Regions from separate parts of the Homo sapiens genome. Here region 1 is linked to region 2. The links come from fine-mapping of genetic effects on gene expression. A gene starts in region 2. The other region holds a variant in brackets. All regions are shown on one strand. Distances are from middle to middle.

Region 1 (2,839 bases), 69 kb after region 2:
CAGGACGGCGGCTCATAGCACAGACTTTGGATTGCAGTGGATGGGACCAGATCCTGGCTCCACTTCTCGCTAGCTGTGTGGCCCTGGGCAAGCTGCTTAACCTCTCTGGGCCTCAGTTTCTCCCCCTGTAAACTGGGGGATGTGAACAGCGCCTGCCTCCGAGTCCTAAGGATTGGGAGTAGTCGTGTAAAGTGCTCAGGTCCACAGGCCATCAATACTAATAGTTAAAAATTATTCTTAGAATCTTGCTTCCCTCAGCTCCCTGAAAGGCCACTAAGGCACCCCAGTTGCAGAGGCCAAAGGTCCGGGAGGCTTCACAGCCACGGCTGTGCCCCAGGGTCTTGGCCCCGGCCCACCTGCATGTAGGTGATGGGCTCCAGCTGGGCGGCCCGGAGCTTCCGCAGCTGCTCCTTGTCCTTCCTCAGGTCTGTCTTGCAGCCGATGAGCACCATGGGGATCCCGCGGCAGAAATGCGTGACCTCAGGGAACCACTGTGGAGGGAGGAGGCGGGATCAGGGGTGCGGCCGGGCCCAGATGTGGGGCCACCACCCAGGAGGCCGGCCTCACCTTGATGAGGACGTTGTCGTAGCTGGTGGGATTCATGACGTCATAGCAGATGAGCACGAGGTGGGTGTTCTGGTAGGACAGGGGCCGCAGCCGGTCATAGTCTTCTTGCCCTGAAAGCACAGAGCAGCGGGGGTCAGGGGACGTCCCCTCCCTGTCTGGACTCTGACGGGTGAAGGGGAAGGGGCCAGGCAAGTGACCCTGCCTTAGGGCCTCAATTTCCTCATCTATACAATGGGCAGCAAGCCAGGAGTGCTGGCACAGGCCTGTGGTCGCAGCTACTCGGGAGGCTGAGGCCGGAGGATCGCTTGAGCCCAGGAGGTCAAGGCTACAGTGAGCCGTGATCATGCCACTGCACTCCAGCCTGGGTGACAGAGCGAGACCCTGTCTCTTAACAACAAAACCCATGAGCGGCAGCCCCCCAGTCCTGGATGGTGGTAAAGAATCCTCAAGATCAAACCCACGCAGTGCTGAGAGCTTGGCCTGATTCTAGGGCTGGGGCTGGAGAAACTGCTAGAGATGATGCCGATAGCCAGTGTGATCCCCCTGCCCTGATGGTCAAGGGCAGAGTGCAGACTGGAACCCTCCCCTCCCCAAAGATTCAGACCTGTGGGGCTGAGTGGGCTCATAGTGTCCCCAAGTCCTGAGAGGCTGGTGTCTGGCTTCAGCCTCCAGCTTCTCAGGTTCTGATGCAGTCAGCTGAGTTCCCTGCCTATTCTTGCAAGCACTAGGAGGAGGGTGGTGGGTTGCTGGGAACAGCACCGAGCGCCCTCCCCACCCAGATTCACAGAGCACACTCCC[T/C]GGGGGGATACTTTAATCCGGAGGCCGTGACGCCTGGCTCCGCCCCGAGACGAGCTGAATCCAAATACGGATCTAGGCTTGAGCTTGGTTGGGTTTGCTTTTTTCTTCTTCTTCTTTATAAACAATTCTTTGTAACTTTTTGTATTGACAGTTTCAAACTTACAGTAAAATTGCAACACGAGTATGAAGAGCTCTCTGACTGTGATTCACCACCTGTTTGCATTGGCCCCTCTGACTTTATCTGGAGACAGACACTTCTGTTTCTCCCTGTCAGGGCACGGTAACTGTAGACATCTGCCTCTTCACCCCTTAGCTCAGCGCCTATCTGCTGAGAACAAGGGCGTTCTCTCCCCTGCCCCAAGCCCCCAGAAACCGCATGGACTCTGCATTCTAATCTGATCCACAGACCATAGTCAGATTTTGACCATTTCACCAATATTGTCCTTTATTTTTTTCCCCGTTGAGGAGCCAGCCCAGCCCAGGGTTCTACACTGCACTTAGTCATCCTGCCCCGGTATTTTTTTAAAATCCCCACAGTGAGAACTGAGAGCTTTTCAGGCTCATTGGTGACCAGCCCCCCGCCCCTCCACTTCCTTCCACTGAACAAGGAACGTGGAGGCCCAGGAATCCCCCTGCCCTGTCCGCAGCTGTTGCAGGTGCTGGGTGGCACCAGCCTGCCCCCCGTTCCTTCTCTGCCAGACACCTCTCAGGACAAGTGGCCTCTCCACGGAGTACCACCAGGCCATGTCTGCTCCTAACCCCTTGCTGGTGATGGGGCATGGCCACCCTCTCCCCACTGGATCCCCCTCAACCCAGGGACCTCCAAAAGTCTTCAGCCAGCTCCCCCATGGAACAGTGCTTAAGGGTGAGGTCACTAGAGACAGATGAGACACATGTTCAAATCCCAGCTCTGCCCTCACTGGCTGTGTGACCTTGACTTAGACAGGACAGTGGTGGGAGTCTTGGCTTCCCCATCTGGGACATGAAAATCATAAAATCTACCTCACGGGGCTGTCACCAGCCAAGGCACACCATTGCACTCCAGCCTGGGTGACAAGAGCGAAACTCTGTCTCAAAAAAAATAAAAATAAAAATAAAAAATGAATTAACATAAAGCATTCAACGCCTCAGTTGCACAAGCCTCATTTCAGGTGATGAACTGCCGCCCGGGGCTCATGGCTAATGCAGTGATTGGGGCAGGTGCACGGCATTTCCTCCACTGCAGAAAGTTCTACTGGACGGTGGGCCCCTGTCTACTGCTGGCCACCCCCCGCCCCTACACCATCCTCATCTAAGTCCTCGTCTGTCCCTCTTCCCTGCCTCCTGCAGCCCTTTGATGAATCCATTATCCACCTGACAGCTGGATGGATCTTAAAACACAAGTCATATCCTGGCCCCCTCTCCACAACTGAAGCATCTTCAATGGCTCCCTATTGCCCCCCCCCCCACCTTTTCTTTGAGACAAGAGTCTCGC
Region 2 (2,901 bases):
CATGTTGGTCAGGCTGGTCTTGAACTCCCAACCTCAGGTGATCCTCCTGCCTCAGCCTCCCAAAGTGCTGGGATTACAAGCGTGAGCGACCGCGCCCGGCCTCCTTCTTTCTTTATGAGACTGGGTCTCGCTCTGTTACCCAGGCTGGGGTGCAGTGGTGCAATCATAGCTTACTGCAGCCTTGACCTCCCAGGCCCAAGGAATTCTTGGACCTCAGCCTCCGGAGTAGCTGGGACCACAGGCGCGTGCCACCACACCCAGCTAATCTGTAAATTTTTTGTAGAAACAAGGTCTCCTTATGTTGCCCCCGTTGGTGAGAATACATTTCTATTGTTTAAACTACCCAGGTTGTGGTTATGGCAGCTTTAGCAACGAACACAGGGGGCCGGGCACGGTGGCTCATGCCTGTAATCCTAGCACTTTGGGAGGCCAAGTCGGGCGGATTACTTAAGGTCAGGAGTTCGAGAGCAGCCTGGCCAACACTGCAAAACCCCGCCTCTACTAAAAATACAAAAATTAGCTGGATGTGGTATAACCTGGCTACTCCAGAGGCTGAGGTATGAGACGCACTTGATTCCGGGAGGCGGAAGTTGCAGTGAGCTGAGATCACACCACTGCACTCCAGCCTAGGCGACAGAAAAAAAAAAAAACACCCATAAAAATAGAAGAAAAAAGAAAGATAAAAAAGTAAAGTAACACAGGTGTCATTTGAAACTGAGGCCTGAATGATGAAAAAAAGGCACATCGTATGAAGATTTAGAGGGAAGAAAGTTCCATGCAAGGTCAGGAAGAGAAAAAGCAATGGCTGGAGGGTACGAGTCCAGGGCGGTGAGATAGAAGGGACTGGAAAGCTAGGCAGGGGCAGTTCTTGCAGGACTTGGCAGAGGAGGGGACAGAACTGGATTTAATCAGCTTGGAGGCGGTTGTCCCTTGAGCGACAGAAACAGCTGTTAAGAACGTCACCCAGAGCGTTAGAGGGCAGGAATCTAGGATGTATTAGCTGCAGCACATAATAATGACAACGTGAAATGACCGTGCCCTCTCTGCGCTGCGCCGCCCGGCCCCCGACCTTTTTGGATGGTCGATGTCAGCGCCAGCCTTCCGGGGCGCTGGCCTGGGCTCAAGTCAGGCAATGACCAGGGGCCGGTGAGCTTTCATTTCACCTCCCCCAAATCTCCTTTCCCCAAACTCTAGACACCCCCAAAACACACAATCTAAGTCAAATAATCTCTGCAAATGCAACCTGCAGACAAGTCCCCCAACTCTTCCTGGAAGAGACAGATTCTGGAGGCGCAGAGGCACTGCCAAGGGGGCCGCAACAGACCCCGAAAGACCTTGCGAGCCTGCCATGTCCCGGTCCGGAACGCCGCACGCGGGGCGGGGCGGGGCACATGCGCACGCGCGGCCCCGCCTCCCAGGCGTGGGGCGGGGCGGGCGCCGGGGCGGGGCCGTGACGTCAGTTGCGCGCGTGGCTCTGGCTGCGCAGGAACAGCTGGTGCCTCCGAGGGCGGTCGGCGAGCGCGCGGGCGTGGGGCGCTGGGGGGCCGGTCGGGCAGCGCTGCGGGAGCAGCCGCCGGCACCGCCGCCTTGCACCATCGCATCATGTCCGGGCAGCTGGAGCGTTGCGAGCGCGAATGGCACGAGCTGGAGGGAGAATTTCAAGAACTGCAGGTAGGGCCAGGCCACCTGGTCCCGCAACTCTGCTGCCCGCGGTGCAGCGCCTTGCCCTTCCTGAGCCCCCCGGCCCGGGCGGTGGGGACAGTCAGGGCCTAGGGAGTGCCCCGGAGAGGCCCTGGGGGCGGACGGGAGGCATGGACCAGCCCCCTCCCATCACCCGGCGCTTCAGCTCTTCGTCCACGTGGGGCGCCGGGTCGCAGCCCCCTCTTCCGCCGCCCTCCCACTGGCTCTCTGCTCCACGCACCCCCTTCGCTGCAGAAAGTTGGTCTGTGGCCTCTGAGGCAAGTTCCAGGCGTGTTCATCTGTGGGGGTGGTTCAAAGAGAACAGCCCAGCCCCCACCTCTGCAGGGTCTCCCCAGATCTCACCCCGCCCCCTCCCATCTGCTTTTGGTAGCTCAGCTCCCACCCCGTGCTCTGGCGGGGCAGCACTATCCTGCAGCTCTGTTTTGGGAGGTGTACTTAAGAGCTGTTCACCTTGAACCTCTAGGTTGTGCTTGGGGATTAGGGACCCCTATTTCCTGTCTTTGGGGGCTCTGACGCTGCTGCAGGCTGATTTTGGCGTGGAGAGCATCTGTCAGTTCGGACAGCTGAGTAGCCTCACCCAGTGATAGGGGAAACTCCCAGCTCTATCCTTCTGGCCCGGAGCCTTACACGGGGTGGAGTGAGGGCGGGTGTAAGGCGGGGGTCCCCTGAGAGAATGGCATTGCTGCTGGGTGTGGGGAGCGGTCCTGGCAGCAGTTGTTCCTGCTAAGAGGTTCAGAGAGGCCCCAGCTACCTACCGTGTTGACTAGAGACGCCTCAGGAAACCTTGGGGTTGACCAAGAGGGACTCGGTGACTATTTTTGAAGACAGGGCTGTTCCCTCTCCAGTCACGGGATTGTTTTTCGGGGGGTTGGCTTTGCCTGAAATTACATTGCACACTATCACCCCAGTCCTCTCATTTGGAGCAGTGACATTGTCCCTGTCCATGTACCTCTTGTCTGCAGTTCAGTTGGCCTCCTACAGTGTGCAGAGGGGAGAGGAGGTTGCCAAGGGTGTCTCTGATGGGTCTTTCTAGACACGTGGTTGTAGATTCTGATCAATAGACAGAGGGTTGCTGGAGAGCCGGGGCAGGAATGGGGGTGCCCTTTCAGGCATGAATAGAGGGGAAGGGACCTAGACACATCTCGACCTGTCCAGCATGTGTAGGTTGATGCCTTCTCTTCTAGGGCCTGGGTCCCATCC

What was found. PIP is the estimated chance that this variant, and not a neighbour inherited with it, causes the effect. A credible set is the group of variants that fine-mapping cannot tell apart.
Region 1: its variant is the best candidate, but not a certain one, in a credible set for the expression of TMEM120B in lung (TOPMed, PIP 0.81).

Annotation. Positions count from the first base shown.
Region 1 is chr12:121,780,516-121,783,354 of GRCh38, forward strand. TMEM120B (transmembrane protein 120B) reads left to right here. Exons shown (of 12, transcript NM_001080825.2): 12 at 1-1,553. RHOF (ras homolog family member F, filopodia associated) reads right to left here. Exons shown (of 5, transcript NM_019034.3): 3 at 568-677; 4 at 357-491. Among named protein-coding and RNA genes, the nearest start is that of RHOF, 12 kb to the right of the region's middle. RefSeq lists enhancers at 1,398-1,457, 1,498-1,567. The variant T/C (reference allele first, on the strand shown) is at 1,366.
Region 2 is chr12:121,711,294-121,714,194 of GRCh38, forward strand. TMEM120B (transmembrane protein 120B) reads left to right here and starts at 1,459. Exons shown (of 12, transcript NM_001080825.2): 1 at 1,459-1,671. The coding sequence starts at 1,603. RefSeq lists silencers at 1,301-1,560, 1,571-1,620, 1,801-1,930.